Linked DNA regions of Homo sapiens: region 1 is linked to region 2. Evidence: fine-mapped expression QTL. Tissue or cell type: whole blood. Region 2 holds a variant in brackets; the other region holds the start of a gene. Each region is shown on its reference strand, or each on the opposite one.

Evidence for each region. PIP is the estimated chance that this variant, and not a neighbour inherited with it, causes the effect.
Region 1: it holds the start of KDM6A, and the variant in region 2 is the best candidate, but not a certain one, in a credible set for the expression of KDM6A in whole blood (TOPMed, PIP 0.88).

Annotation. Positions count from the first base shown.
Region 1 is chrX:44,865,288-44,882,054 of GRCh38, reverse strand. KDM6A (lysine demethylase 6A) reads right to left here and starts at 8,867. Exons shown (of 30, transcript NM_001291415.2): 1 at 8,343-8,867; 2 at 8,068-8,131. The coding sequence starts at 8,503. LOC105373190 (a long non-coding RNA gene) reads right to left here and starts at 15,192. Exons shown (of 3, transcript XR_949040.2): 1 at 15,174-15,192; 2 at 14,538-14,658; 3 at 11,752-11,841. RefSeq lists silencers at 7,868-7,967, 7,978-8,057, 8,098-8,357, 8,698-8,927, 9,178-9,677 and 1 more.
Region 2 is chr4:182,665,463-182,682,229 of GRCh38, reverse strand. It overlaps TENM3 (teneurin transmembrane protein 3), which reads right to left. Exons shown (of 28, transcript NM_001080477.4): 7 at 9,011-9,225; 8 at 2,354-2,564; 9 at 1,881-1,982; 10 at 1,493-1,687; 11 at 216-416. Among named protein-coding and RNA genes, the nearest start is that of DCTD, 240 kb to the left of the region's middle. The variant A/G (reference allele first, on the strand shown) is at 10,256.

The DNA.
Region 1 (16,767 bases), not on the chromosome of region 2:
AACTTTCTTCCTGAGAATAAACTTAGCAGCAGCATCTTCTATTTATTCTAACAAAGGCAAAATACTCAGCCAGGCATGGTGGCTCACGCTTGTAATCCCAGCACTTCAGGAGGCCGACGCGGGGGGATCAACTGAGGTCAGGAGTTGGAGACCAGCCTGGCGAACACAGTGAAACCCCATCTCTACTAATAATACAAAAATTAGCTAGGCGTGGTGGTGCACACCTGTAATGTCAGCTACTCAGGAGGCTGAGGAAGGAGAATCGCTCGAACCCTGGAGACGGAGGTTGCAGTGAGTCGAGATTGCGACATTGCACTGCAGCCTGGGCAACAAAAGTGAAATGCCATCTCAAAAAAAAAAAAAAGACAAAATAGTACCACAGAGAAAATTACAAAAAGCATACAAGAATACATTCACAATGGAACACCACCAACAGTTTTAATAATATACAGAAGTAAACAAATGATGGAATATAAGGAAGAAATAGGTAAGAGAAAAAATAATAAAAGCTTATAGAAGAAAGTTGCAAGCAGTCTACAAATTAGCTCAGAAACCTAAAACTGTCTAACAAGGGATTACTCCCACCCTTCCAGGTGACAGTTTTTTTGTTGTTTTTTGTTTTTGAGATGGTGTCTTGCTCTGTCGCCAGGCTGGAGTTCAGTGGCACGATCTCGGCTCACTGCAATCTCCATCTCCTGGGTTCAAGCAATATTCTCCTGCCTCAGCCTCTCGAGTAGCTGGGATTACAGGTACGCGCCATCACACCCAGATAATTTTTGTATTTTTAGTAGAGACGGGGTTTCACCATGTTAGCCAGGCTGGTCTCGAGCTCCTGACCTCGTGATGCCCGCCTCGGCCTCCCAAAGTGCTGGGATTACAGGCATGCGCCACCGCGCCCGGCCCAGGTTACAGTTCTTAATCAGGTCCCAAGTATCAGCCTGTGCCAAATCAGACTCAAAATAAAGTCAGCAATGAAATGCTAAAGATCAAAATGAAGAATGAGCGCAGTGACTGTCACAAAGCCATCTAAAACACAAAGAAATAGGACCTAATTGGGTACATCTCTACTCCATTCACTCCTACCCTCACTGAAGGAACATCAAGTTCAAAAGTATCCCAACTTCAGACTGTAATTAAAATGCAAGAAAGGCCTTTACAAGTATCTCTTCTAACTATAGACATGGTAGTTTAAACCCATTTTTAGTCAACCAAAATATAACATTCTGGTGTACTATCAGAGTACTTTTTTTTGTTTGTTTGTTTGAGATGGAGACATGCTCTGTTGCCCAGGCTGGAGTGCAGTGGCGCGATCTCGGCTCACTGCAACCTCCGCCTCCTTGGTTCAAACAATTCTCCTGCCTCAGCCTCCCAAGTAGCTGGGATTACAGGCGCCCACCACCACGCCTGGCTAATTTTTTGTGTTTTTAGTGGAGATGAGGTTTTGCCACTTTGGCCAGGCTGGTCTCGAACTCCTGACCTCAGTTGATCCATCCGCCTCAGTCTCCCAAAGTGCTGGGATTACAGGCACGAGCCACCACGCCTGGCCTTATTGTATTATTTTTAAGGTAATATATGTCTACGGTGTTAAAAAAAAAAAAAAAAGCAGTACAGAAATCTATAAAACAGTTTAAAATCTCCCCTCCTTCTCACCCCAAAAGTGTCTTGTACTCCAAGATGACCATTAAGTCATCCTGAGTGTCCTTCCAAACTCTGTCAGAGAATTTAAATTGACCCATGAACACTCATTTAAGAATCTCAAGTTAAGAACTCATAACAAGGTAAATATTACTACAAAATGAAATCAAAGAAGGACAGAACACACAGCAGATCATCCTTTGAACATCTGCTAAAAGCTAAAATGTGATTTTTTTTTTTTTTTTTTGAGATGAAGTCTCGCTCTGTCGCCCAGGCTGGAGTGCAGTGGCACCATCTCAGCTCACTGCAACCTCTGCCTCCCAGGTTCAAGCAATTCTCCTGTCTCAGCCTCCCAAGTAGCTGGGACTACAGGTGCACGCCACCACGCCCGGCTAATTTTTATATTTTTAGTAGAGACGTGGTTTCACCATATTGGTCAGGCTGGTCTCAAACTCCTGACCTCAAGTGATCCGCCCACCTCAGCCTCCCAAAGTGCTGGGACTACAGGTGTGAGCCACCACACCCAGCCTTAAAATGTGATTTTTAAATCATGTTTTCCTAAACAAAATTATAAGATGCCTTGCTAACATCTAAATCAAGAAATACCATCTCCAAGAAACACAATCAACAAACAATCCCCATCTTTAAGAGCCATTCTAACTTGTGAATTGTTAAATTTACCTTTCTCATAAACTTTCAGAATATTTCACATTTTTCTTCTCCCAAAGATGGTCCTGTGTTAGTCACCCTTAAACTTATCTCACCCCTCTTAAAGAATTTAAGTTCAACACGGGCAAGAAATATCTATGCTATCTTCATACTATCTACATAGAAGGCTTGCACATAGTGTACATTAATATACTGTTTTAATTTACTGTCACGATAATTTACAAACCAATGTGGAAAACTGATAAAATTATATGTGAAGTTTCAATATGAGTACTTAAGACTGTCAATTATGCATTCATTAAATAAACTTTATTAATTAACTAATCTACAAATAATACATGTGAGTCCTAAACAGCCTAACCACCATTTCAATTCTTAGACAAGCTGGTAGTGTTTTCTTAACATAAATTAGCTCTCTAGATAACACATTTCAAAAATATTATTAATAATGCAGTGTTAGCAGTCATTAACATCAATTTCAAAGAGTTCAACGCATCACAATGAATTTCAAAGTAAAAATAAACTTAACAGAAATCCTTTCAAAGATGCAGAATATTGGTACTATGTAAACAAAAACTAAATGTTACATAATTTAAGTCAGAAAAAGACTTACTCTGCAGCTAGCCAAGCAATGAACTTTCATTTTGGTTTAAAGTGCATGACCTATCACTTCACCTAAGTCACAAAAATTCATCTCTCAGGCAGTTTTTCTTAACAGCTTAAGATATTGGCCAGGTGCGGCGGCTCACACCTGCAAAGCCAGCACTTTAGGAGGCCATGGTGGGCTGATCACGTGAGGTCAGGAGTTTGAGACCAGTCTGGCCAACACGGTGAAACCCCACCTCTAATAAAAACACAAAAATTAGCCGGGTGTGGTGGCAGGCACCTGTAATCCCAGCTACGCAAGAGGCTGAGGCATAAGAATCACTTGAACCTGGAAGACCGAGGTTGCAGTGAGCCGAGATCACTCTACTGCACTCCAGCCTGGGGGATAGTGTGAGACTGTCTCAAATTAAAAAAAAAAACAAAAAGTATCTAGAGGTGGCAGTCAAATGCTCTCTAGTTATTTCAATTTGTAATTGATTCGACAGAAAGAACTATTTACTGAAAAAGAAAACCAGAACTTTAAAAGTGCCTGTTTATGTATTGCTGCAGTTCTAATTTGTGACCAAATATGCAAATATGTTCTATAATCTTAGTATATCTTTATTACCAGGCACAAATCAAAACTTTAGGAAATACCAAGTATATAAGACTTTGTCCACGTAAAAAATTAAGACTGCAAGTGTTCAGAAGACAATCTTCCAAACTAGAAAACTCTTTAAAACACAAAGCATGACATTATTTCCATGGCTACTTTCTTTTTTTGTTTGTTTTTGTTTTTTGAGACAGGCTCTCATGACTTTTCTAACCAAAACACTAGCCATCTTTAGCACTGGAAATGAATTTACAGGTTGAGCATCCCTAATCTGAAAATCCAAAATCTAAAACTTTTTGGGTACCAACATGACACTCAAAGGAAATGCTCATTGGAGCATTTTGGAATTCAGATTTTCAGATTAGGGATGCTCAACTGGTATGTATTCTGCAAATATTCTGAAACCCAAAAAAATCCCAAATCCAAAACACATCTGGTTCCAAGCATTTTGGATAAAGGATACTCAACCTGTATGCCTTTAAGTGCCAGCAAACAAAAAACACACATAAATGAGAATGTTTTTAATCAACATCCAAATATTACAATTTAAAAAAGCCACCTCTAGAACTGACCTAATAATTTCCCCTACCAAACACGCCAGCAAACCAAATTTAAGAAAATATGTTTCAATGGATCTTAAACTACTTCTATTATCAAAAAAATTTAAAACACCAACTGTTTTAATGCTAATATGTCCTACGGAAAAAAGCACATACATTTTTAAGTGATATACAATCTATAACTTCTAAGTATTTTGTATAATCTTTCTACTAATAGAATTACCAAAAAAATTTCCAATAAGAGTATTTAAGAAAAACTTAAAAATAAGATACTTTGTTCAAAACTGTGTATTTTAGCAATAGTTCCCTGACGCAGATAAGATTCCCCAGTCCCCTAGCATTATTACTATAACTATACTTGGTAGTACTACTATATTTAAACTTACTACATTTATGGTATATATTCGTATATATTCTACTTTAACTCAAATCCTTACCCTACTTAAAAAAAAAAAAACCCAAAAGGTTTTCAAAAATGTACTAAAAAAGTCACAAGTTAATTTCTGTTAAAATATTTTGCTTAGTTTTCGATAACTCCACTGAAATTTTAAAAATAAGAATCTTGAATTATTACATTACCAGAAGATTAAGGGTCAGCATTCAAGAGCACTGTTCAAGATCACCCTATATCACAAGAACTCTAATTACGCAGGCTCTAGCTGTTTACAACCTTAAAGACATTACCAAAAAATAATACATTGTATTAACTACCTTATTTTTTTAATCCAAAACCCCAGGCATTGTATATCAAATGGCCATCCTACAAACAAAAAATTCTTTCAATGACTCTAATATAACTGAATCTGACAAAAACATTCGGGAGACGATGAGAAATCAGTGGTTTGAATAAACTGCACACCTGGAAAAGGAATACACATATAGATATGTACATACGTATACATACGCATATGCATATATATACATATATGTGTATACGCATATACATACGTATGTATATACATGTATATATGTATACACGTATACGTGTGTATATACGTATGCGTATACGTGTATATACGTATTCATATACGTGCGTATATACGTATACGTGTGTATATGCGTATATGTATATGTGTGTATACGTATATGTATACGTGTGTATATATGTATATGTACACGTGTGTATATATGTATACGTACATATGTTAAGGGACAAGTAAGAGACATATTTAATGCTTTCAACTTTCTAAAGCTTTTAGGTCAAGAGTTTTTTTTAACATACAAATGTGAATTTTAAAAACTTGAAAGAAAATCCAATAATATACATAGGAATAAGAATTTTTGAAAACAAGTAGTAATAGCTAAATTTCTGCCAGAAAGGAAAACGTTATACAAAGTGCAGACTAAATTGGGGCCGGGGGGTTGGGGGTGGGGGGGCATGGCAGGACAAAAATCAAAGCTAAAAAGGGAATTCTGGGAGTTATTCAATTCCATTATCTGCCCTCAGGTAAGTAGCCTAAACCTGCCCAGTAAAGGAAAGCCAACTCTTAAGACTTTCAGGGAATAAGAATTCTGAAACCAACATAGCTCAACATTCCACAAAAAATAAAAATAAAAAACAAAAAAATACTGCTTCGAGGACTGTTAAAAGAAGGATGAAACTAAATAATTCAAGACTTCCTACAGCAGGACTCCAGCTCATTCACTTCATTCAGAACCCAATTCAAACAGAGGGTGCGAAGTTATATAATGTCAGGCTTTACATTACACACCCCACTGGTATGTTCAGGCTCACAAAGATGCAACCAAGAACTATATGCGGTTGCAAGCACATATTACAGAAGGTTTTATTTTAATGTTAAGGCTGATGAATCTTGTCCTAAGCAGGTAGGACACCTCACAAGCACTGAGTCTGAAGCAGTGAAGATTTTTTTTTCTTTAGTTTAACAAACTGCTTAATCGTTCATCAAATTACCCCATATATCATGAAGGCCCCAAACATAGTGAAGCTTCACTAGTTTTTCATTTTTAAGATGTATTCAAACATCAAGTAATGCACAACTTGCCAAGAATATTTGAAAATGGTTACTTTTTTAAAATTTAAACTCGTTAGTGCATAACTGCAGGGTTTAATATTACAATCCGAAATCCAATGTTAAGCACTATTCGCAGTGAATCTATATGAATATGAGCATTCTAAGACATAAAATCAACTAGCATTTTACACATTCTCAACATAAAACATCAGATTCCATTTATTTTTTCATCACCATAACCAAAAGCAATCGATTTGGCCAAACTTTTCCACGTGAATTATCTTTGCAAGCAATTTTATTAACCCATGTTAGACCAACAATAATCCCTCCAAAACAAAATAATGCTCTTTTAATTTAAATCATGTTTAATCTTTTATAATGACAACTTTGACAGCAGTCAAATATTTTTAAATAAAATACTTTAAATACTCAAATTGGAAAAAAAAAAAAAAACTTTAAGGCAGGAGACCAACAATTACTGACGCTTAAATCTTTCCAGAGCTAGTCACTGTTCATTTTTACAGCAATAATTGTAATGAAGCCAATTAATACCTACGTAGTCAAAGTTTAATTCAAGTTTTCTGTATCGGTCAAAGGGGCCGGGCTTACTGAAAAGCATTATTTCCATTTAGTTTTCTGATTATATGCAATATAACACCTTATAATTACTTTGAAATAAAAACAAATGTGTAATTACAGATAAAAAGGAATTGATGACTCTGCGAAACCAAGCTACAGACAAAAATTCAGAACAACAAAAAAATCAACTTAAGAATAAAATGTTAGACTTATTTCAAACTTGCGTCTCAACTGCAACAATAAAGCTAGGTGTCAAATGCAAAGCTATGATTTCAGCTAGAAAAGAAAATGTCTAACGGATACAACACCCATAGCACACACTCCAACTTTCACGGTCCCAATTACGAAGAAAGTATTCAAATACCATTGCAATCAGATTTTGGTCAGGAAATATAAACTGATGCATACAGATTGAGACTCCAGCCTTTGTTCAATAGCTTACAGATGGATAACTAAATGTGCTACAGGTTGATAAGCATTTACCAGGCTTATGCATGCTGCTTCCAAGCTTATGAAAGGTATAAGAATTCTATATGCAAATAATCTTGGGTAATTTTTTTTAAACACCACTGAGCTACACACTCCGAAGGAAAGGCTTATTCACGGCTACTATTTATTTCCATGTTTACCTCTACACCCTCCCCCTAACCCCCCCCTTCACTTTCTCCTCCCACCCTGTCCCGCCATCTTGGGCCGATAGGAGCAGCCATTACTTAACTAAATGACAGTGCCAACAACTTTCCACACAAATAAAAAAAGACTACACCCCGAATCCTCCCCAGCCTCCCCTGTCAGACACACAGGAAATGAGGCTCCAGGAAGAGAACACGTTTACAAATAACTACGGTATTTCTATGCCAAAAAGACCCAAAAAGTAAACAAGTCACCTAACTTCAGGTAACACACACTGCAATCGAGATACATGTCAACAGCCCAATGCAAACTCTTCACCGACCTAAACTCCGTGAAACTTCCCCCTTCTGGGAGCGGGGACACAAGAAAGCCTAAAACATTTGGTTAGCAGTAGGCATCACGAACAGCCTGCTTGAAGGAAAAGAATTTTTTTAAACCCGTAGAGGCAAGTTAAGTCCGAAATTTGGGAAAATCTGAACACACTCACGATCCCTTGACCCTAAACAGGCACCTCGAAGATCATCGGCCTACCCTCAAAAAGCTGTAAAATAGCAGGCAGTTGTGTCGACCCAGTTGAGCCCGGCCCCAAAGCGATCCCGTCTCTGTTCCTCCAGCTACAAGAGGAAAAGAGCGATTTCGCAAGGGAGCAAGCAGGGTACCCGGGGGTGGGGGGAGAGCAGAGGCAGGAAATAGTTTCCGGAAGCCCCTCGACCATCGTCCGTGGCCACAATGAGCACAGACCCGGCCGCGGGGCCCGGGGCGAGCGCGGCGCCGGCCAGGGAGACGGTGTCCGCGCTCCGACTCGCAGCTGCCTTACCTTGCCCAGTAGGGCCTTCGTCCTGGCGCCATCTTCATGAAATCTCACGAACCCAAAGAGGCGGCTGTGGAGACAGACACAGTTTACTCGTTAACGCTCAGGGAACGCCACCGACCCGTCCCTGCCCGAGCCCGAGGCCCCAGCGGAGGCGGCGCGAAGAGCGCCAAACCGAGGTGCCCGCCCCGCCGCCGCCAGAGACAAGCCGCGCTCGGTCCTCCCGGGAGAGCGGCTACTGCCCGTCCGGAGCCGACCGGGCGAGTGACGGCGGCCCGTACCTGTCCAGTCCGCCGAGCGCCTCCCTCTCCTCGGCTGTCAGGCTGGGGGACGCCTCCTCGCTCTCGCCGCTCGCTTTTCCCGCCGCCATTTTCTTTTCCTCATCACCGAAAGCGGCGGCGGCAGCGGCGGCGGTAGCGAGCGACACTCCGCAGGATTTCATGGAAACGCAGCGAATTCACAACTCCAACGCCGACACCCCCCCTCGGACCGGGGCCCGCAGTGACGCCCCCAATCTGCGCGCGGGACCAGCACACCAACTTTATCGCCGCCTCCTCCTCCGCCGCGGGCGGCGGCGACGAAAAATCCCAACGCGGCGGCGGTGAAGGCGGCGGCGGCGGCGGCAGGGGCTGCGGAGCCCCCGGGTCGGCAGCGGCGGCTTTCGGCTGTAGGGTCACATCGCGGGGTTGGGCAGGGGGCAGCCACAGGCGGGGACGGCGGGAACGGCCGGAGCGCGCGGGGCTGGGGAGCACTGAGGGGATTCGTTGGAGACACAAACTTCCCCGGCACCAGCACAAAGTTGTTGTAATTGTGTCACACAGCGAACCCCACGCCGCCGCCGTGACCCCCCCTCCCCGCCCGGCTGGCGCCACCAATCGGCGCGGCCCGCACGCCTCACGTGACCTTTGTTGACTCACGTCAGCCGTGGCTCCACTTAACTTGCTAGCTGCCCGAGCCCCGCCCACCGAGGCCGCCACCGAGATGGGAGCGGGACGCAGGCCAATTCTAGCCGGTGGTTGGCTGCTGGGCGCGTCTGTCGGGGGAAGGGTTGTCACCGAGAGGGAGCTTCCTGTTAGGTTGTGCTGGTTAAATACACTGGGGCAGAGAATGGAGGGTCCGGGCCGTGTCACCTCGGGAACCGCGGCGGGCTCTGGAGGGGGAGGGGAGTGGTGGGGAAGGGCGAGGTCCGGCACCGCCCGCGGCGGGCGCGAGCGGCGGGCGAAGACGCCAAGGACGGCATTTGCCTGCCCGCGAGCTCTGGGATGTGCCCAGACCGCGGCTCCGGCCGTCCCGCGCGCGCTCCAGGGGTCCCGGGACCCCACAGGGCCTGGTACAGGTCGCGTAGCCGGGAGGCGGCGCACGGCCCTCGACCTCTGCCCTCCGAAGAAGGCTCAGACTTTTGGCACTGCTGGAAATAATGGCCTCCGCGAGGAGGGCGCTCGGGGAGCGGCTGCCGGTCCCGTGCCCCGCGGTCCGGGTGCCGCCCTAGGCCAGACCTGCGCTGGCAGCCCCGATCACCTCACCCGCGCCGAAAGTGAAGGGGGAAGGGCTCCCCTGACCCCCGCCCATACGCCCCAGGCCGGAGGGAATGAAGAGTCGCCCGCGGGGCCTGGCTTGCCGACCATGGCTCCCCACCGCCAAAGGTCTGTCTGTTGGCGGCACTTTGGGGCCAGATTTTCGTGCTGTGTTTACCCTGTGTCTTATCAGTAGTTCATTACAGTCTTACAAGAAAAAGCAATGAGAAATTGTGAAGCGGGATCTGCAGAATGTTGGGTTCTATTGCCATGATTTCAGTGGAGCCTTCTTACAAAAGTAGGGGCTGCTTGTGGACAGACCTGAGAGAAGACATAATTAAATCATCACAGCTGGTGGCCCAAGAAATCCTTTCTATCCCCCAAAACCTGCAGGTTTGTAACCCCTAGACAACAGTAACATTTTGTTGTTCTGTCTCTCAGGTGCAGGGGAAAGGCTTTAGTCTGACTTTTAATCTTTACTATAGGTGAAAAAAAAATAGGCCTTTCGACTACTCTTCTCAAAAGGCAAATTTATTTACTAAGCTGTATGTCTTATAACAGGGATAGGAAAAAATTGATAGACATATAAGGACAAGATTCTGTTTATAAACGGAGTTTTTTATATTTTCAATAGGTTTTCCACCTGTAACCAATAAAAATTATATATTTAAACTTGGATTTCAAAATATGACGAAGACAATTCAGTGCTGACCCAGTAATTCCTACCAGTATTCAGCGGGAAGCTATGGGAATCCCAACTGATTTTGCACACAGTTTTAAATTGTTCCCCTGAGACTAGTAACTAGACGAACAAACTGTAGTTTTGTATAGATTATAGTTCATGTTTAATTACTTCCTCTGAAACACCTTTCCCTTTATGATACTCCATTTTGCTTGAATGAGTGTGTACAAAGGGCCAAATCTTTTCTACGGCTAAATTAATACATTGTTAACTTTGTCACAAATGGTGACATTTAAAGCCAAGGAAATTTTGACCCCAGTAACTCGCTCGCACACTCTCTCATACACACACACACACACACACACATACACACACACTTGCACAAGCACAGATAGACATTTTGCTGGTATTTGACTATCTCCCTGAAGTTAGCAGTTCCTGACTCAGGTCCTTTTCAAGGATTATAAGGCTACTCAATCCCGGCCGGGCTCTGTGGCTCACGCCTGCAAAGGGAGGCCGAGGCGGGCGGATCACGAGGTCAGGAGTTGGAGAGCAGCCTGGCCAATGTGGTGAAACCCCACCTCTACTAAAAATACAAAAAACAAAATTAGTCGAGCATGTGGCGCTCGCCTGTAGTCCCAGCTACTCGGGAGACTGAGGCAGAAGAATCGCTTGAACCCGGGAGGTGGAGGTTGCAGTGAGCCATGATTGCACCTCTGCACTCCAACCTGGGGACAGAGTGAGGCTCTGTCTCAAAAAAAAAAAAAAAAAAAAAGGCAGCCAGGCGCTTTGGCTCACGCCTGTAATCCCAGCACTTTGGGAGGCCGAGGCAGGTGGATCACGAGGTCGGGAGATGGAGACCACGGTGAAACCCCGTCTCTACTAAAAATACAAAAAATTAGCCGGGCGTGGTAGTGGGCGCCTGTAGTCCCAGCTACTCGGGAGGCTGAGGCAGGAGAATGGCGCGGAGCTTGCAGTGAGCCGAGATCGCGCCACTGCACTCCAGCCTGGGTGACAGAGCGAGACTCCGTCTCAGAAAAAAAAGGCTACCCACTCTCCACACCTCAACACTTTTCTTCCCGCTATTACTATGTAATAGCAGAACAGCAAGGAGTGGATGCAATGGGTGGGAGTTGGAGTGAGGCAGACCTGGATTCGAATCCTTGCTCTACACAGGCTGTGCGACCTTGAGAACATTACCTATCCTCTAGGCCAGTGCTCTATGTCTATTACAACTACAAGGATCTATCATCAAGCATGGGACAAATTTCATATGGTAACATAAGTCCTTACATCATACACATGTTACATAGTGTGTTATCTGTCAAATGTATGTAAAATAGATATAGAGCCTATAAGGTTTACATATTTCACTGGAGAGAGAAATAGGGACATACAATAAATGATTTTATAATAAATTTCCATGAAAAGTGAATCTGAAAACCCCACCGGAAGGCAGAGTAGTGCAGCCAAAGGAGCATGAATTGTGGAATCATACAGCTCTAGGTTCAGATCCTACCTTTACCACTTGATAGCTAGGCAGACTTCAACAAGTTAGTCTAATTTGAGCTTCAGTTCTCTCATCTGTGAAAAAGAGAAAATACAGCCACTTTATAACATTATTTTAGATGCCATAAGGTAGGTAAAGTGCCAGACACATAGATTCAAAAATCTCAATAAAATAGGAAGGCTGGAATTTCCAAAATTTTTTCTTGCTTTCACAATCTGGGTTCTAAATTTATTATTACTCTACCCATCACTTCCTCCTTCTCCCTCCACAACCTCACTATAAGCCCAACACATAAGCAGTCCTAAGTACTTTATACTTGAGGCATATAACCCCAGTATTGCTACATCTCTCATTTATTCTAAACTTCGGCCTTATAAGCCGGGTGCGGTGGCTCACGCCTGTAATATCAGCACTTTGGGAGGCTGAGGTGGGCAGATCACCTGAGGTCAGTAGCTCCAGACCAGCCTGGCCAACATGGTGAAACCCTATCTCTACTAAAAAAATGCAAAACTTAGCCAAGCATGGTGGCACATGCCTGTAATCCCAGCTACTTGGGAGGCTCACGCAGGAGAATCGCTTGAACCTGGGAAGCAGAGGTTGCAGTGAGCCAAGATCATGCCATTGTACTCCAGCCTCGGCAACAGAGCAAGACTCCATCTCAGAAAAAAAAAGAAAATAGAACATTCATCCTTATATCACTTAGTACTGATTCTTTTTCATAATTCTAAATACACCAGGAGCTGGGGAAAGTTTAATCTGAATTTAGCAAATTAATACGACTAATATATGTATAGATAAATCAATATTATAAAATTATATAAAATCTAGCTAAGTCAGATTACAGACTAAGTACATAATTTGTAGCAATATTATGTTAATATTTATGTAAGTACCATCAACTAATTAGAGAAGGAACCCATTTAAGTATAGGAAAATAATGTGACTTTCTTTTAAACAACGAAATATTTAACCTGAAGCACTTAGGAATATTTAGTGTGTTTATAATGTTAGTGCCATATAACCTTTACAGATAATAAAAAGTCACATAACAGAGTCATAGTTTATCTAGTCTTATCAATAGAACTATACGTAAATGTTACGATCAAACATAGGTTCAAAAAAATTTACCAGTTCTTCCCATACTTACCACTGTCATAGAGACTATCCAGCTGATGCCAGAACACAAAAATGACAGAAATAGATATATGGTTAGGTTTGAGCAGAGACAGGGAGCCAAGGATAAATGGACTTTCAGTTGTTATGAAAACTTCAGTTGTGAGAATAGAGTTAGGACTGCTAGAAGATGCCTGGACTCCTACCTTCACCAGGCTGTAATGAGGCACCTCACATCCCACCCCCGCCAACACACACACACAACTGCACTAGGCAGCCTGGACTTCCACCCAGCAGTTGTGAGGGGTCAGTACCCATCCCTGCTGAATTAATGTCAGAGTCGTCAAAACTTTCATCACTGCCCAGTGGTATACTACCACCCCCCCCATTGTATCAGTGGAGGGGGAGCAATGTAGGGAACAATAATGAGGGACTCCTATACTGCCCAGCTAGGGTGAATGGAGGCCTCAATCTAGGCCTGGTAGGGAGCGAGAACTCCCATCCCCACAAAGCAGTAACAAGGAGACATTGCACTCATTGTCAACCAAGATTGAGGGGGAAAGCTGGACTTCCACCCACACCTGGCAGTAACAAGAGAATGCCCCCTTTGCCCCCACTAGAGCAATGTCAGAGGAGGCCTGCTAAAATACAAGATTTAAATAAGATCTAGAGTCTTGGCCGGGCGCAGTGGCTCATGCCTGTAATCCCAGCACTTTGGGAGGCGAAGGCGGGTGGATCAGCTGAGGTCAGGAGGTGGAGTCCAGCCTGACCAACATGACAAAACCTCATCTCTACTGAATACAAAAAAAATTAGCTGGGCATGGTGGCACATGCCTATAATCCCAGCTACTTGGGAGGCTGAGGCAGGAGAATTGCTTGAACCCCGGAGGCGGAGGTTGCAGTGAGCCAAGACTGTGCCATTGCACTCCAGCCTGGGCAACAGAGTGAAGCTCTGTCTCAAAAAAAAAAAAAAAAAAAAAAAATCTAGAGTCTCAGAACACTGCCCAAAATATCCAGGTTTCAATAAAAAAATTACTCATCATAGCAAGACCCAGGATAATTTCAAATGAGAAAAGGTCAACAGATGCAAACACTAAAGTGAATCACATGTTTAAATTATCTAACAAGGGCTAGGCATGGAGGCTCACGCCTGTAATCCCAGCAATTTGGGAGGCCAGGCAGAAGGATCACCCGAGGTCAGGAGATTGAGACCAGCCTGGCCAACATGGTAAATCCCTGTCTCTACTAAAAATACAAAAATTAGCTGCGCATGATAGCGCACTCCTGTAATCCCAGCTACTACTTGGGAGGCTGAGGCAGGAGAATTGCTTAAATCTGGGAGGCGGAGGTTGCAGTGAGCCAAGATCGCGCCATTGCACTCCAGCCTAGACTACAGATTGAGATTCTGTCTCAAAAAAAAAATAAAATAAAATAAAAATAATAGCAAACAAACAACTAAAAAACTAGAAGGCCTCAGAAGAGCAAGAAGAAGTTTCAGAAAAAAAAAAAAAGACACAAAGTATTGTTGAGCAAGTGGCATCTGTGGCCCTATTGTCAGGAGGAGATGTCCAAGCACTTCTGCCCACTGCATCTTGGTACCAGGATCTCCAAGGAAAATACAATTCAGTCAAGCCCCGGGTAGAATAACTTTACTCACATAGAGAAGACACACAGCAAGATCGGCTTCAGTAGTGGACATTAGTTCTCCCTGGCCAACAGGTCCCTCCAACAGCCAACACACTCCTCTTGTGCTGCAGCAGAAAGATCTCATCCTCTCCCTGCAGTGGACAGATATACTAGTGGTGTGGCCCAGATGCCACGTGACACATATATTTAAGCAGAACAAAGGAGCACACATTGAGTCTGAAACAAAGACAGATATTCCCACACAAGGTAACAAGTCTAGTACAGGCTGTGAGAACTCTCCATCCCTTGGTAAGGAAGTGTTCCAGGCTCAAGGCCTATTCTCATGTGGCTGATAGGGGAGCAAAAGACTGCACCCATGGAATCAAACGAAAATTTTAGAACAAAAAAACAGAATGATCAAAATAAACTTCACATATGGGCTCAATAGCAGAATGGTGGGAACAGAGGAAAGAATCCATGAACCTCAAGACAGAACAATAGGAAATACCTGGCTGGGCAGGGTGGCTCACACCTATAAACCCAGCACTCTGGGAGGCCAAGGCGGGTAGATCACCTGAGGTCAGGAGTTCAAGACTAGCCTGGCCAACATAGTGAAACCCCATCTCTACTAAAAATACAAAAATTAGCCGGGCATGGTGGCACCTACCTGTAATCCCAGCTACTCAGGAGACTGCCGCAGGAGAATCGCTTGAACCCGGGAGGCAGAGGTTGCAGTGAGTTGAGATTGGGCCATTGCACTCCAGCCTGGGTGACAGTGAGAACCTGTCTCAAAAAAAAAGAAAAAAAAAAAAAAAGGACATACCCAATCTGAACAACAGAGAGAGAATAGACTGAAAAATAAATAAATAAATAGAGCCTCAAGGATCTGTGGCACTGTAACAAAAGACACAACACTTATGTCATCAAGTCACAGAAGGAGAGGAGAAATGGAGAAATTAGGCATAGCCAAAAAAAGTACGTCAAGAAATAATAGCTGAAAATGTCCAAAATTCACATCATCCTTGTAATTAAGCTACTCTTTCTTGGAGAGTTGTATAAACAAATTCTATACTATAATCCAGAGTGATGAGTGCCATGACCTATGCCCAAATTTCTGTGGGAGCACACAGAAGAGGCATCTTTGTCAGCCTAGAGGGACCAGGGAAGTATCCTAGAGATTAGAAGATAGGCCAGGCGCAGTGGCTCACGCCTATAATCCCAGCACTTTGGAAGGCTGAGGCTGGTGGGTCACCTGAGGTCAGGAGTTTGAGACTGGCCTGGCCAACATGGTGAAACCCCGTTTCTACTAAAAATACAAAAAAATTACAAAATAAAAAAAAATAAATAAAAATACAAAAAAATACAAAAATTAGCCAGGCATGGTGGCGGGCGCCAGCTGCTCGGGAGGTGGAGGCAGGAGAATCGCTTGAACCCGGGAGGCAGAGGTTGCAGTGAGCCGAGATCACGTCATTGCACTCCAGCCTGGTTGACGAGAGCGAGACTCCGTCTCAAAAAAATAAAAAATAAAAAAAAAGATAGATTGGTAGGAGCTGGAAAGTGAGTATAGGGAGGTTTATATTCCAGGCAGAGGCAGCAACATACCTGCAAGCACACAGAAGGCTAAGAATATGGGAGTTCTGATAAATTCAAGAAGTTGAGTGTGGTTGCGGCCAAGAGGATAAGGGAAAAATCAGGAGTTGAGGCTGAAAAATTAGGCAGCACCATGAAGAGTCTAGAATGGAATGCTAAAGAATCATGCGAAAGTTTACAGTGGACTATTAAAAGATTTTAGAGAGAGAAATAATAATTGTAGGGTTGCTCTTGGTGTTAGTGCTGTTGCTGTAAACAGATTTGCTTTCACCTGGGCTCTGCACTTGGCACCAAGTTTAGTGAATACTGGCTAACTGGCTGGCAGCCTGACCCTTTTGCTAGACCAAGCGTCAGAAAACTATACTCTATAGGTCAAATCCAGCCCACTACCTGTTTTCATATAGCCATTTTATCTCAGATGAAAACTACATGAAATTCAGTTTTTGGTCTCCATATAAAAAAGGTTTCATTGAAACACAGTCATGCTTATTCAACTATTATCTATGGCTGCTTTCGTGCAACAGTATAGAATGGAATAGTTGCAACAGAAAATGTACATGGCACTCACATCATTTTGCCCTGCCGCTGGGTTCCCTACAAATCACAACGATACTGTTACAACTTGGCAGTGTTTCCAGTGCCTTACATACAACACTGAGACTTTTTAAAAT
Region 2 (16,767 bases):
ATACTAAAGGGGAAATTTTAGTGACAAACTGGCTAAGCCTGGTTCCTTCTTTTTTATAAGGCAACTACATATCATTACTTTTAATATTTATTTCCATAAAGAATCACTTTACTAAAATTTGTATTAGGTTTAAAAAGGGAGGTTTAAAGATTAAAATATCATCTTTAGCCAAACAGTATTAAGCAACTCGATTGTACTGCATTTATTAACCTCACCGTTTGAGCAGTCTGGGCCAGTCCAGTTAGGGTCACACGTGCAGGAGCCACTTTCTTGAAGATACGTTCCGTGGCCGGAGCACTGGTCTGGACACATGGTCTTCAGTATTTCACAATTGCTACCTCCCCATCCTGGACTGCAGTGACATTCCCCGTGGATACACACACCATGATTAGAACACCCAGGGTCTATACAGTCAGCTGGTGTAAAGAAAAGAACAATTTTATTAAATCCAGAAGATATCATAGTGCATGCAGAAAAAAGAATTAAATCCTAATCTAATTTATATGAACATTTTGGAAAATCAAATATTTATCTACCATTTTCAAGAACTTGTTTCTGAAAATGCAAAGAATTATAATACAATAAAGCATTAAGATCCAGCCTAATGCCATTTAGGTAATTGAGACTCTTGCAAGGATTTGTAATTTTCCTGAATTACACACACAGGCTCTTGAGGTTTCAGACTATTGCTCTCTGTTCTGCCTAATCACAGAGTAATAAGTATTGCCTTCTCTATAACAAAATCTGTGACCACTGAGTACTGACAGCTGTATGGGATCCTCACACTGTTTGAGAAATAAATGAGTTGCATACTCTCTATCCTTCTTAATTCACTTCAATGTGCTTTAGATGACGAGATTTAATTTAGCAATTTGACTCAATAAAACTTTACACTTGTAGGGTCAATGGCCTGAAAATTTAATTCCAGAGACTTAATTGCATTACTTTGTGTGTGCAGATCAATAAAATCAATTTGATTGAAGAATGGAAATGGTGCTTTTTTGCTTTCTGAAAAAACAATTCACCTGCACTTTACAGTATGGTATCTCGACTCTCATCATTATACGTATACAGCTATGGAACACATCCATGATGTCATACTTCTTTTAGGTAGCATATTATGTGTACTACTCTGTCTTTCTAGAGATGTCAAAATGCTAGATTTAGAAGCTGGCATCAATGTAAAAAACTATAAAAAGAAAAATAAAATCAACCGTCCGCTGTTAGTTTCAAGGCATAAAGGTTTGCTTGCTTTCTCAGAGTGAAGAAAAGGAATGATTCACAGTGCTGAAAAAGAGCAAAGGGGCCCTTTGGTGCTTGTTCTTTTTATTAGTTAAAATGTTAGTAAAACAATGCATTCATAAACATGGATTTTTCAAAATTGCTTTCAAAAGGAAGCGTATAAAAGAGATCTGCCCAACTAAAGATTACAGATACAATCTGTTTCTTTATGAAGATAACAACAGACTTCTGTGAATATTGACATGTTTACCTTCTTCACAACTTTCTCCTTTGTATCCTGAGTTGCAAGCACAAGAGCCCATGATACAAATCCCACGACCCCCACACTGTGGGTCAATACACTGGGTAGTCGGCACATCACACTCGGTGCCCTTCCAGCCGCTGAAACACAGGCAGCGGCCCTTGGAGTACTGCCCGTTGCCACTACATAACACTGGACAGGCGGCTGTGAAACAAGACACGACAGAAGAATTACAGCCACACTTTCCACCGAGCTTCCGAAAGAAAAGACACATCGCTGGAACAAGCAATATGCCAGTCTCCCCCCCCCTTTCTTTCCTGTCTCGGTAGTTTTTGGAATCACTTGTGTTTCTACAGCTTATTTATATCGGCTTAAGAGAAGAATCTAACTTGCATACCTCTTGAACAATCCGGACCCAGAAATCCTGGAAAACAATGGCAAGTTCCAGAAACGCATTCTCCATTTCCATGGCAATTTCGGGGACATTCCACCACAGACTCTGAAGAAAAAGGAAAGAAGGAACACTTGTTGTATAGCCTGCCTCTTGCAAAAGATAAACGGTATCACTTTGATCTTCATTTATGCTAGATAATTTGAGTAGTAAAGCAAAGCACTGTCACTTCAAATGCAGATTTTCAAAGTGTTTCATGACATATTCTCCTCTCCCAAGGTAATTCCAGAAAATATTTTCTCCCAGTGCTTCACAGTTTGTCACATATTCCCAAATAAAGGTTTAAAAATAATTCTCACATTTTACCTGGGCTTTAACACCCTAGGAATTACCCCAAATTGGTACAGATAATTTAGTTTTTATTAAACACGGCGTTTAGGCTATAGCCTGGAAAATGCTGCTTTGAAGACTATTCTTACCTATAACAATGGTATTAAAAGACACCTGCTCTGCATTTTTCCCATCATTATAAAAAGCCAGATGCCAGATTCCAGAATCCAAGTACTGGATAAAGCCGGCCTCATGAAGGCTGACGGATCTCGCCTGCCGCCCGGCTCTCTCCGTCTCAAGCAGGCTCCGCTGCTCTCTGGCAATCAGCCTGCTGCCATCCAGGAGCTCCACGAAGTCATACTGGGGGGAGGACGAGGAAAAATAGTCAGAAAGATAAAGGGTGGCTGCTTCTCTCTTTTTTTTTTTCTCTTCAATCTGTCTTCCTTTGCTCTAACAAATACAATGTTAGAAAGAAGTTCCTGACAGGTCCAAATGGTAGAAGTCTCCCATGCATAGCATTTACAAGGAGGACGCAAACTATTCGCCACACAGGGCTGGATTCAAACATCAGGGACCATTTTTTTCCCTTATTGGGCAATATGGTTTCCAAATTTATTTAATTCTACTGACTGATCAAAAGTTTGATGAGTTTAGGCAGTTTGGGGATACAAACATAAAATCTACATGAACTGACATTTCCAATCCAGCAGGCTTATTTTTAATGCATTAAATTCATAATTGATATATAATAGTCGTACGTATTTTGAGTGCCCTCCCGGCCTCTGGTATCCATCATTCTACTCTTTCTTTTTTTTAAATTTTATTTTAAGTTCTGGGGTACATGTGCAGAATGTGCTGGTTTGTTACATAGGTATACACGTGCCATGGTGGTTTGCTGCACCCATCAATCCATCATCTACATTAGGTATTTCTCCTAATGCTATCCCTCCCCTAGCCCCTGACACCCTGACAGGCCCTGGGGTGATGTTCCCCTCCCTGTGTCCATGTGTCCTCACTGTTCAACTCCCACTTATGAGTGAGAACATGCGGCGTTTGGTTTTCTGTTCTTGTGTTAGTTTGCTGAGAACCATCATTCTCCTCTTTCTGCTCATTCACTTTTTTAGCTCCCACATATAAGCAAGAACATGCAGTATTTGACTTTCTGTGCCTGGCTTATTTCACTTCACACAATGAGCTCCAGTTCCATCCATGTTGCCAGCAACCTTGTTTTAGTTAGACCACAAGATAACCCTGTACAGTCTTCTCTGATTTAACATTCATGTAGCAACAACTACTGTTGAATCCTTACTCCGTGCTGGTTCCTCATAGGAACCCTCGTAGGAAGGCTTTAACATTTGCACTTTACAGGTGAAGGAATCTGAATCTTGAGGAGGGTAGCAGGCTCTCAGACATCTGGTAATGGTGGGGTTGGCTTGTGAACTCAAGAGCACTTTGCTCCAAGTGGGGTCATTCCTCCCACCCTACTCCACCTCTCTTGTGACCCTGATGTGACCATCTCAAGCACCATGGAGAACGCCATGGGCTTTACTTAGTTATTGTTAGATTAGAAACATGTAACAAGATGCCTTTACATCTTTGATCTAAACAGTTAAACAATGGAGGGGTTCTGAAAGGATGGCAGTAACAGTAAACGTGCCTGATTATTCTTATGAATGGGTCATCATTAAACCTAAGTTTTGTTGTAGTAAAATTAGACATGAACATTGGTGACTGGAGAGTTTAAAAAAGAATTAAAAGTATAAAATGTGATTGTTAATATAGTGGGGTAAAATTTTGTAACTAGAAATAATACAGGGAATTTGAAAGACACTGAAAAGACTTTCCAATGTAGTTTCAAGGAGTTTTTTAGATTACAATTGTTAAAAGTAGAGTGATTCAGTGTCTATAGAATGTTACCTAGTTTCATTCTATTCCTGAAGTGTGTTTATGGTGAAACATATGCCATAGTACTATATATAAATAATTATTATTATACTACTGCATATATAAATCATAAATATTCTACTTTCTGATAGGTTTCTTAAATGGAATTTCATCAGAGGCCTATTTAAGAAAAAGATTATATGAATCTCTTAATCCAATCAAACTGGAATAAAATCAGTTGTTGGAATTTCTGAGAATCACAGTTAAATATATTGCCATTTTACTGACCATAGACCTCTACTGTTAATATTGGAGAGAACTTAGAGTATCTAATTCAGTTTCTGACTTACTAAAATTTTTATTTATAAGTAAAACCTTTTTTTGTTCTTTTGTGTAGTTTCATCAGAACAGAATTCAGCTGTGAGAAATATATAAAAACAGTATAACCTGATCAGCAGTCAAAAATGTTTATTTTCATTTATACCTTATAAGGATGAAAATACTGACTGGTGTGGATACATGACCTATAAAATTTGACTGGAATTCTATTCTAGAATTGTCAGAGGAAAATTAATTCAGCAGTTTTGAATGGTGACTCTGTCTCAAATAAGCCATTCATTTCCTCATCAGGTTTAAATATTTACACATTTGCATGGCAAAGAGACAAGAAAAAGTTTCTTTTTATGACCGAAGCATATAAACATTTTTCTTCCCTAACATTAAACACGGTAACTGAAAAAGTGAACGGGAGGAATTTTGAGTTTTAGCTGGTCTTTCAAGGCAAAAGCACAACCATCACCTTTATCATAGAAATAACCATTCGCATCACACTGTGAACAATAAAATAAGGCCAGGGTAGTGGGCATGATGGTGGGGAGGAGGAGCTGACAGGTTTTGAGTATCTACCCAGTTCTAGGCTCATCTGCAGAAGTGTTTCGCACATGAATTCAGGAGGGCGATTCAAATACCTAAAAAAAGTTCCCTACTTTAACACTAAAACCATCTTTGCCCAAAATTACCAAATTACAAGGAATAAAAATACTTAATAATCTTTGTTCTTAGGGCATAAAGTGGTCACTTAAGGGCAAATGTGAGTTTTGCTTTGTAATATTTCTAAGATGGAGATGCAGATATATTTTTGGGGAGAAGAGGAGTCTTAGGACCTTATGCTCTTTTTAGGAAGAAATTCTTGGGGCTAACTCTTCAATTGCACTAGTCCGCGGGAGCCATCGTGAGACAAAGCTTATACTTGATACAGGTTTCATATAAAGTGAGATAATTTTAGTGTGAAAGCTCCGTTTAAAGGTCATTTTCTTACGATTTAATATTACCAAATATACACGCTTTAAAAATCCTCATTTAAAGTTGCTTTAAACTACAATGTATTAATAAGCCGTCTTTTGGAAAATCAATAGAAGAAAAGTTTGCCCATGTTTGTTGTATTTATGCTGATTATCTAATAGACCATTTAAAAACAAATAGATTTTGTTTCAGTTATCTTGGTAGTTCACTTCTGAAGTTAGATTATATGTTTAATTCAATTCCGTTACTAAAACGATGAGTTCTTAGAATCTATGAATACTTAACTGTGTCCTTACATCAACTCTTTGGTAGTGGCACAGTCTTGCTGTAATTGGAATATAGAGACTAAAGAGATTTTACAGATCATCTGATCCAACTCTTTCATTTTACCAATGGACACTAAGGCTCAGAGAAGGGACTCTGCAAGGTCACACAGTGAAAAGGTGGTGAGGGTATGCTAGAACTCAGGCTTCCAACTCCTATTCGACAACAGCCTTCATGTGAATGCACTAAAATGCTACAGTATACTTCACCATAAGGCTCTGCATTGACTCCTGAGGCCACTAACTGACCAGGAGAATGAACTGGCATCAGGGAGAAGAGAGCCCACTGATTCCTTGGCAACAATCAAACGGGCAGTTTTACAAAGGGTCACAAAGACTGCGAAAGCTCAAGCAACTATTCTGAATGGCTGGCCAATTTTAATTATTTCAGGTTGATTTATTTAATGTTCTCCAGAAACAGAGAAATGTTCAATTTGGGCTGCCTTATACAATATTTCATGTTTAAACACTGAACTCAGAAACAGTTGTTTGCTCTGCTGATCTTGAATAAACCACAGGAAGAAACTATAATAACCGTGAAGCTTAAGAAAATGCATAACCTACTTAAACACATATATTGTGGTAGAAAAGAAAAGAGGATATCACATGTATTGTGTTTAAATACTAGAAGGATTATGAGAAAACCCGAAACTGCACCTTTCATTTCTCTAATCTTAAATGTTATATACAACTTGCAGTCAACTAAATCTTTAAATAAACCTTTCAAGTACACAACACAATAGACAATTCTTACCTGAAATTATTTTCTAGAATTTGTAAGTTACATGTTTACTATTGTGCTCAGCTTAGAGGTATATTTCTTGAATTATACACAAATAATCACATATGCGGTTTCAGTGGGAAAATATTTTTTCATATTTCACTGGACAATTGCTATAAATCCAATCTGTCTACTATAATTGAAGTTATAGAGGACTTCCACTTAAGAAAATCTGCTTTTTTTTTTTTTCTCCTAGACAGAGTTTTGCTCCTGTCGTCCAGGCTGGAGTGCAATGTCACGATCTCTCACTTACTGCAATCTTTGCCTCCAGGGTTCAAGCAATTCTCCTGCCTCAGCCTCCTGAGTAGCTGGGATTACAGGTGTGCGCTACCACGTTCGGCTAATTTTGTATTTTTAGTAGAGATGGGGTTTCACCATGTTGGTCAGGCCGGTCTTGAACTCCTGACCTTAAGTGATCCACCCACCTTGGCCTCCTGGTGCTGGGATTACAGGCCTAAGTCACTGTGCCTAGCCTTAAGAAAATCTGGTTATTATATCCTAGTCAGTGTCACCTATAAGATGAACTGGAGTCAAATCTAAACTTTAAAATGGTCTAGACTGGCTGGGTGCGGTGGCTCACGCCTGTAATCCCAGCACTTTGGGAGGCCGAGGAGGGCAGATCACCTGAGGTTGGGAGTTCGGGACCAGCCTGACCAACATGGAGAAAACCTATGTCTACTAAAAATACAAAATTAGCTGGGCATAGTGGTGCACGCCTGTAATCCCAGCTACTCAGGAGGCTGAGGCTGGAGAATCACTTGAACCCGGGAGGCGGAGGTTGTGGCGAGCCGAGATCATGCCATCGCACTCCAGCCTGGGCAACAAGAGCAAAACTCCATCTCAAACAATAAAATAAAATAAAATAGCCCAGACGCGGTGGCTCATGCCTGTAATCCCAGTCCTTTGGGAAGGTGGGCGGATTGCTTGAGCCCAGGAGTTCAAGAGCAGCCTGGGCAACATGGTGAAACCACATCTCTACAAAAAATACAAAAATTAGCCGGGGGCGGTGACACGCATCTGTAGTCCCAGCTACCCAGGAGGCTGGGGTGGAAGGATCACCTGAGCCGAGGAGGTTGAGGCTACAGTGAGGTAAGATTGTGCCATTGCACTCCAGCCTGGAAGACGGAGTGAGACCCTGTCTCAAACAAAAAACAAAACAAACAAAAACCAAAACCCCAACAAACAAACAAAAATATAAAATTTAAAATTGGGCATTAGTACATTATAAGAAGTATACAATGCATAAGGATCAAATTTACTTTAATAATATAGATATTAAAAATATTAAATAGGAAAAATGAATACACTAAAGCCTGATATTCAGAAATTTCACAGCCATAAAATTAATATATGTATATGAACTAAATCCACAATTACATTAGAAAAAGCATGTTGAAATCTTCTTACTCATCTTCCTTTAAAGATATAATTTCTTTATTAATATGTGATAACTTTTCTTCATAATTTATGTTCCTAGGTTATAGAAAAAATATTTCTCACAAAATTATATGATATAAAGCATACATGAAAACTCTCCAGCCCTTATTTTATAAGTCACACTAAATCAGCATGAAATTCTCTAGGTAAATAAACTGATTATTGAATATAACTTTAGGCTCATCCTACTGTCAATTTTAATGAATCAACTCTTACATTTTTGATATTCCTCTATGTACTAACGTAATAGTTGATCTTGGGGAAAGTCTCAGTTCCAATTTTATGGTAGGTAATTTAAATAACTTCTCTTAGAGATGATGAAACCTATATTAAGCGACAATTTCCAGTTTACATACTATGACCCGGTACTGTATTAGATTATGAAAAAGGCTGTGGAATTGCCAGCAGTTCTCCATCTGTGATTGCTGTTGTGAGGGGATTTTTATGCAAGGGAAACGACTTTAAAGTTCTTTGATATTAAGGATATGTGAATTGTCTTGTGTACCACACTGACATGATCATACTTGGTTATCTCTGAAAGCTCTCTTGCCTCTTCATCTCAGCGTTGATCATTTTAGATGAGGCACGGCGCCTGAGTTGATAAAGCTCATGTCATCATATTTATGTTGATGTTCCCATCATTTCTCTACTAAGAGGAAATCTGGCATAAACTAAAAAAATACATTTTCAACAGAATGAATACGTGTTAGAGATGAATATGTTATGCATCTATTACATGAAAGGAATAAGATCATCGGAAATTATCATAGAATCTTTGTAAAACACTTGGAAAATCCATGGTGTTTTACTGGGTGCTCAGATGATGCTCAATATTCATTAAGTTCCTCACAAAATTCAGTACATTTTAAACAGTCAAATCAGGAAGAAAATATTGTTCTTCCCACTACTGATTCAAAAACCTCAGAACAAGTAATCTACATTCAAAACTCTTTCTACTGTAGAAAGTCGATTCAAAAGTCGTCAAACAGTTAACCAAACAGCTGAGCTTAAGAAAGAGAATAATTTCAAAAAATGCAACTGGCAGTTTTTATTTTATTGATAAGAAAGCCTAGTCTTACCTGAGTATGGGAAGGCGGTAAGCCTTTCCGGCCATATACTCCAATCAATGCATCCTTCTGAAGAGAGATATTGAATTTAAGAAACTGTGGCTGATCAATGAAGAGCTGTGATCTCCAGAAGATCCCGGGAGGAATCTCTTGAATTGCTCTTCGGCCAATATCAAGTTCTCCGGAATCTATGGTGTTATTTTCTTGCGTAAATCCACCTAATTTTCCTGAATGTAAGAGATGCACTGATGAAGAACAAATTTTTTTTAAAAAAACAAAACAAAAAAGGTTTTTAAACTTTTTGAAAAAGTTATTTTTACCAAATGCTCAAGCCATTTCATCTTCTGATATATTACTTTCATAAAATTTGCACTTTAAAAGCTTCTACTATTAGATACTGGTGTTTTACTAATTCTGATTTAGCTCGTAAGATATTTAAGTTAAAATCCTTTTGACTTCCCCCAAGGTATGCCCATTACTAAAGCTGTTTTCACACCTACAGTCTTTCTGTTCACTTGAAACATAATTATCTTACAAATTATGAGTCTTGTTATTTCTTGGGAGAGATTAGGGTCTGGTACTTATCAGTCATTCTAAACATACTATAACACTGCAAAGTGTAAATTAAGGCAGAATGGATTATGGAGATTTCTAAATCAATCCTTAAGCAAACAATAAAACCAACTGATGGCTCGGATTCATGTGGTTCTATCTAAATGATATACTAGGATGAATGAAAAACATCAGATGTTGGCAGAGAGATAGAGAAGGGGTACTTGGGGCATTGTGAGGGGAAAGGAAGGAGGGGTAAGCTTAAGTGCTCACATAGCTTTTGTGTAGGCTGTTATAACTTTTCCTCTTTCTTTTGAGCCTCATTTCAAACTCACTTGTAGTCTTAGTGGACATACTGTGTTACTTCTGACCACACTGATCTTTGATGCATAGGAACAAAACCTCTTTTCTCCCTGGATCTCTGCCACCTGTTAAGAGACACCATCTCTTCTCTTCCTGCATGGCCTCCTTCTAGAAAACAGATCCAAGACTCCTCTTTTTGGTACGATGTTCCTCTTTTCCCTCTTTGCCAAGGTTCTTTCTCAGTTATTCTGATGGGGGTCATGGTAGAATTTCTGCAATTTGCCGTGAGTGGAAATATAACTACATTGTCTCTTATGCAGACGGGTCCAGAAGGCTGAGGAACAGAATGGAACTGGGCAAATTATCTTCTATCAATTCAGCCCTTTTACACTGATAACAACA[A/G]GAGGGTGAGGAGTGAGGATCACTTGAGCGCAGGAGTTAAAGTCCAGCCTGGGCAACACAGTGAGACCTCGTCTCTTAAAAAAAAACTGATAACAAAGTTGACTTACTACCAACTTTGTCTTTTTTAAAAAAAATATTAAACTGTTAATTCAAAACGCAGAGGAAGTGATTTTAAGTCTGAGCTGTAAGCTATCTCATCTCAGTGATAAGGGAGACAGGCTTCTAACTATCTGTGAAGAGTTATTAGTTTAACTCTGAGTTCATTTTTACTGAGTGTCTGCTAGCGGCAGCACTGTAGGTGACTTAAAAAAAGAAATATAAACCAAAGAGTAGAATCTTAGAGATTATCTAGACTTCCATAGCTTCTGCTATCAAGTAGTAATTACCTGGGTGGGGAGACAACACCCACAAACTGATAAATTAAGTGAGACCCTAAAGCAACATATGAGTAGGGGTCAGAGAAAGGCACTATCACTGCAGGCTGGAGGTTGAGAGATTTCACAGGAGTTAAGTTTGGTGGTAAACATTGAGGAACAGGTAGGATAAGGTTTCTGAGCTGGGATAAACATCGCTATCACAAGCATGGCCGTGGAACTTGACAGGTGTTAGGTTGAGGCTCAGCAGAGAAATCCATCTGGCCAGAAAACAAGATAAAGAAAACCCGTTTTGGAGTCAGACAAACCTGGGTTTGAATCCTGGCTCTGCCAACAATTAGCTGTGTGACCTTAAGGAAGATACTAAACCTCATTTAGAAAATGGGGAGAGTAACATAATGATTGCACCGTTACAAGGATTCCATGAGGTTTGGTGCATCAAGGGCAAGCTGCAGCGTCTGGCTCTCAGGAGGTACTGAATGGGTTTGTCGTGGGAGGGATGCGGGATAAGGTTGGGAAGGGACGTGGCATCTGTCTGTGGAGGGCCTTGAATACCAGGTTAAAGAATATGGTCTTTATACTTTATGCTAGTGATTTCTTGTATTTTCACTCTATCAAGAGTGTTATTACACCCTTTTCCCTGAAGATGTATATATTTACTAGTATTCTGTTACTGTGCATGTCATTTATGGTATGTTTTTCAAACAGATACTTGAAGACTGATTATGGGTAAATTGCATTTCGATGCCTCAAACACACTTATTCTTGTGTGGTGGTGGGGTGTGTGTATATAATCAAGAGAAACAGAATTGAAGATTACTACGGAACATGACCTGCAATCACAGACCCAGTTTATGGCCTATAGGATCTGAAGCAATTCACAAAAAATTCACACTTACAGATAAATGTGAGGTTTGAGGGAGAGTACATCACTAGCAAATGTTAGAATTGCTTTCCATCTGGACTACTGCATCCTACATGACACACGTACCATCAGTTGTGAAGGACAGCTATAACTAAATGGAGACCCATTAAAGGTTCTGAGCGGGCTAGAGGTGAAATGAAATCACTGTTTCAAGAGCATTACTGTGCAGTAACTGTGGGAAGCCTGGACATGAAGAGATGAGTGAGGACACAGCTGCAATAACCCAGGTATGAGGCAGAAGAGGGTTGTACTAGAAAACTCAATAAAAAGGCATTATTTATAATCTCCCTTCCTCTCTTCTTTCCCAGTGTTCACAATCATGGTAGCTATCAGGTCTATTTTTCTTGAACCAATTCAGTAATATAAAAGGATCTAAGGAATAAAATTTCCAAATTGAGTTATAGTAATCACTATAATTTTTCCACACATCAACTCTTAGATTATAAACTGTAGATCATTCATAGGATTCAAAGTATTTATTTTACAATAGTAATACTTGTTCATTTCAGCAAAATTAGAACATACAGTTAAATAAAGAGAGAAAAAATATGTATAATGCTACCACCCAGAGATTATTTTGCTTTCTAGCTAAACAGACGTCTTGCTTTACTCAGAAATTTTTAATTATCTGAGACCAATTTCTACTTTTCATTTAGGAAGCTTCTGCAAAGGAACCTACATTTGTCATGAAGGAGCTTTTACTGAGAAGATTCAGGGGAGAGAGAAATGGAACTAATCTTCACTGAGAACCTACAATATGACAGGTAGTTTCACCCAAGAGGTTGGTATCATTTTGAGATGAGGAAACTAAGGCTCAGAGAAGTAAATGATGTGGCCAAAGTCAGTGATGGCATCAAGACTGAAATCAAGGTCTGCAGAATTCCAAAACCATCTGTTGTATATAATCCTCAATAAAATCTTTGCTTTTTATTAAAACAAAAATATTATTTTAAATTACTAAGTTTTAAATTTGTCTATTTCATATAAAATCAGATATATTAAGTCACTGAACCACCCTAGAGAATATACTTACAATGTCAGGACATAAAGTTTATACTTATTTTTATAAGTTTTATATTGATAAAACTTAAAAAACTGACATGGAAGGCCGGGTGTGGTGGCTCACGCCTGTAATCCTAGCAATTTGGGAGGCTGAGGAGGGCGGATCACGAGGTCAGGAGATTGAGACCATCCTGGATAACACAGTGAAACCCCGTCTCTACTAAGAATACAAAAAAATTAGCCCGGTGTGGTGGCGGGCGCCTGTAGTCCCAGCTACTCGGGAGGCTGAGGCAGGAGAATGGCGTGAACCTGGGAGGCGGAGCTTGCAGTGAGCCGAGATCGCGCCACTGCACTCCAGCCTGGGCAACAGAGTGAGACTCCATCTCACAAAAACAAAAACAAAAAAAACGTGACATGGATATTATAATATAATACTCTTTATGTTATAATTCATAAGTTCCTCATAAGTTTTTGTCTTTTGGTTGACTTCTACATGAAACTAATTTTAAAGTACTGAGTAGAGTAGCTGTTCTCTTCCCCTCTAAGATGTCAGTATACATATCATATTTTAATATGAACATAGTTTATATGTAGACTCATTCATCAAGTTCATACATTTCTAAGGCTATGATACTTGATTGTCATTAACAAGTTTCATCTACTATCCGAAGCATATGTAATTTAATCTACTCTCTTGGGTTGACCCTATTGCTGCTATTAATGGTTTTCTGAGTTTTAATAGCATACCTGTGCTTTGAGAACTGGTAAACATAAATTCATAAACTGGTGCCAATTTCAGAATTTTTTTCCAAAACATTATGTTTACCCAAGAGGATTAGCTGTGGTAATGGTAACCAAGTTCTGATTTCTAGGGTTTCCGGTTTCACTATGTCAAAGGCATTTAATAAGCTAGGTATTCTTGCCTTGTTTCTTTCTCCACAAATTAATTTTGAGGGGTTAAAATCTTTCTCACAGAAATGATATGTGAATACATCGTTGTGTCGCGAAGTATATCTATTTATCCTGTTAGTCCCATATATAGGTAATTTAACCAGTGGTTCTTTTCCAGAAAAAGAGGGTTCTTCATTTGTAAAACAAAAGATCCAAGATTGGTGGAGTGTGCTTGAATGGGATAGCAATTGTGATGATTTTTTTCCTCCCGTAACGAAAAAATACCTAATTAATCATAACACCACAGAATCTTCGAGTTCTAGTACCCGTGGGGGTCATCTAGTCCAGGGGTCTTTAAAAAAGGGTAGCCATATCCCTAGGAAACATTAAAACTTTTCAATAAGGAACGGGGTAGGAGATTAATTTCTATTAATAGACCCTCAATAACATTCATGTGTTGACTTTCTTTACAAAAGAAAGGCGTACCTCTCACATACCCAAATATTACTATGACTTATTGTCTTGGAGCATAAAACTTCCAGTATGCCAAAAAAAGGCAAAATTAAAAGTATTGTGGTGGTGAAGCCTCTTTTATTGAAGACACCATAAACCCAAGGTAGGGCTTCAGCGACTTTCCCTGCTTAACATAGTTCCATTAAGGGCAAAATGTGGGGTTAACAATGGGGTATTTAGGACTACTAGCATGCTTTGAAGTCAAATACATCAAGAAAGAGAGATAACCTTTTTAATGAACTTATCACTCACCCCAACTACTGTCAAAGAATGCTTTTCTTTTTAATTAATTAATTAATTAATTAATGTATTTATGTATTTATTATACTTTAAGTTCTAGGGTACACGTGCAAAACGTGCAGGTTTGTTACATATGTATACATGCGCCATATTGGTGTGCTGCACCCATTAACTCATCATTTACATTAGGTATATCTCCTAATGCTATCCCTCCCCACTCCCCCCACCCCATGATAGGCCCCGGTGTGTGACCCCGGTGTGTGATGTTCCCCTTCCTGTGTCCAAGTGTTCTACAAAGAATGCTTTTCAACTGCAGAAGAATTTCATGACTACCAAGAACACAGCAATAAGGTAAGAAACATGAAATGTAATGATGCTTTATTTATTCCCGTTGTCAAGGTTAGGACAAGGATTTGTGCTTTATCTTGCTACCTCTCTACCTAGAGCAGGGATTCAGAACTGAGAGGTTCTAACAAAATGTAGATTAATTTATTCGAACTGAAAAAATAAGTCAGACTTTTTCTGACAAAAGGTAAATTTGGGCCAGGTGTGGTGGCTCACACCTGTAATCCCAGCACTTTGGGAGACTGAGGCAGGTGGATCACAAGGTCAGGAGTTCGAGACCAGCCCGGCCAAGATGGTGAAATCCTGTCTCTACTAAAAATACAAAAATTAGCTGGGTGTGGTGGCGGGCGCCTGTAATCCCAGCTACTTGGGAGGCTGAGGCAGGAGAATCACTTGAACCTGGGAGGTGGAGGTTACAATGAGCCGAGATCACACCACTGCACTCTAGCCTGGGCAACAGAGCAAGACTCCATCTCAAAACAAAACAAAACAAAACAAAACAAAACAAAAAAATGGTAACTTTGATTTCAATGAGTACTGGCTCTGACAGTTAAATTATATGGTGGCTATTTCCCATAAATTAAATGAGCTAATGAAATAGACACATTTAAAGCATATACAGGCATACCTATTGCACATTTTGTTCCAGACCACCACAATAAAGCAGATATCACAATAAAGTGAGGTACACACATTTTTTGGTTTACCAGTGCATATAAAAGTTATGTTTACACTATACTGCAGTCTACTAAGTGTGCAATAGCATTATTTCCTTTTTTTTTTGAGACAGGGTCTCAAAAGCTGTCACCCAGGCTGGAGTGCAGTGGCCCAATCTCGGCTCACTGCAGCCTCAATCTCCCTGGGCTCAGGTGATCCTCCTACCTCAGCTTCCCAAGTGCCTGGGACTACAGGTGCACACCACCGAGTCTGGCTAATTTTTTGGTATTTTTTGTAGAGACAGGGTTTCAACATGTCGTCTAGGCTGGTCTAAAACTCTTGGACTCAAGCGATCCACCAGCCTCGGCCACCCAAAGTGCTGGGATTGCAGGCATGAGCCACTGTGCCCAGCCAATAGGTTTCTACAAACCAACGTACAAACTTAATTTAAAAAATTTTATTGCTAAAAAATGCTACCGATCATCTGATCAAGTCATCATCTTTTTGCTGGTGGAGGATCTTACCTCAGTGTAGGCGGCAGCTGATTGATCAAGGTGGTGGTTGCTGAAGGTTGGAGTGTCTGTGGCAATTTCTTAAAATAAGACAATAATTAAGTTTGCCACATTGATTGACTCTTTTCATGAAAGGTTTCTCTGAAGGATGGGATGCTATTTGATATCTTTTTACCCACAGTAGAACATCTTTCAGAATCGGAGTCAACCCTCTCAAACCTTGCCACTGCTTTATCTACTAAGTTTATGATAGTCTAAATCCTTTGTTGTTATTTCAACAATGTTCATAGCTTCTTCATCAGGAGTAAATTCCATCTCAAATACCCACTTTCTTTGCTCATCCATAAGAACAACTCCTCGTCCATTAAAGTTTCATGATGAGATTGCAGCAATTGTCACATCTTCAGGCTCTACTTCTAATTCTAGTTTTCTTGCTATTTCCACCAGATCTGCAGTTACTTCCGCCATTGAAGTGTGAACCCTCAAAGTCATCTATGAATGTTGGAATTAAGTTCCAAACTCTTGCTAATGTTAGTCTTTTGACCTCTTCCCATGAATCATAAATGTTCTTAATAGCATCTAGAATGCTAAATCCTTTCCAGAAGGTGTTATTTTTTTTTGAGACAGAGTCTCTGTCTGTCGCCCAGGCTGGAGTGCAGTGGCGCCATCTTGGCTCACTGCAACCTCCGCCTCCCGGGTTCATGCCATTCTCCTGCCTCAGCCTCCTGAGTAGCTGGGACTACAGGTGCCCGCCACCATGTCCGGCTAAATTTTTTGTATTTTTTGTAGAGACGGGGTTTCACCCTGTTAACCAGGATGGTCTCGATCTCCTGACCTCGTGATCCGCCCGCCTCAGCCTCCCAATGTGCTGGGATTACAGGTGTGAGCCACCGTGCCCAGCCTCCAGGAGGTTTTTAATTGATTTTGCCCAGATCTATCACAGGAAAATCACTATCTATCTATGATAGCCTTACAAAATGTACTTCTTAAATACGACTTGAAAGTTGAAATTAAATTAAATATGACTTGAAATTACTCCTTGATCCATGGGCT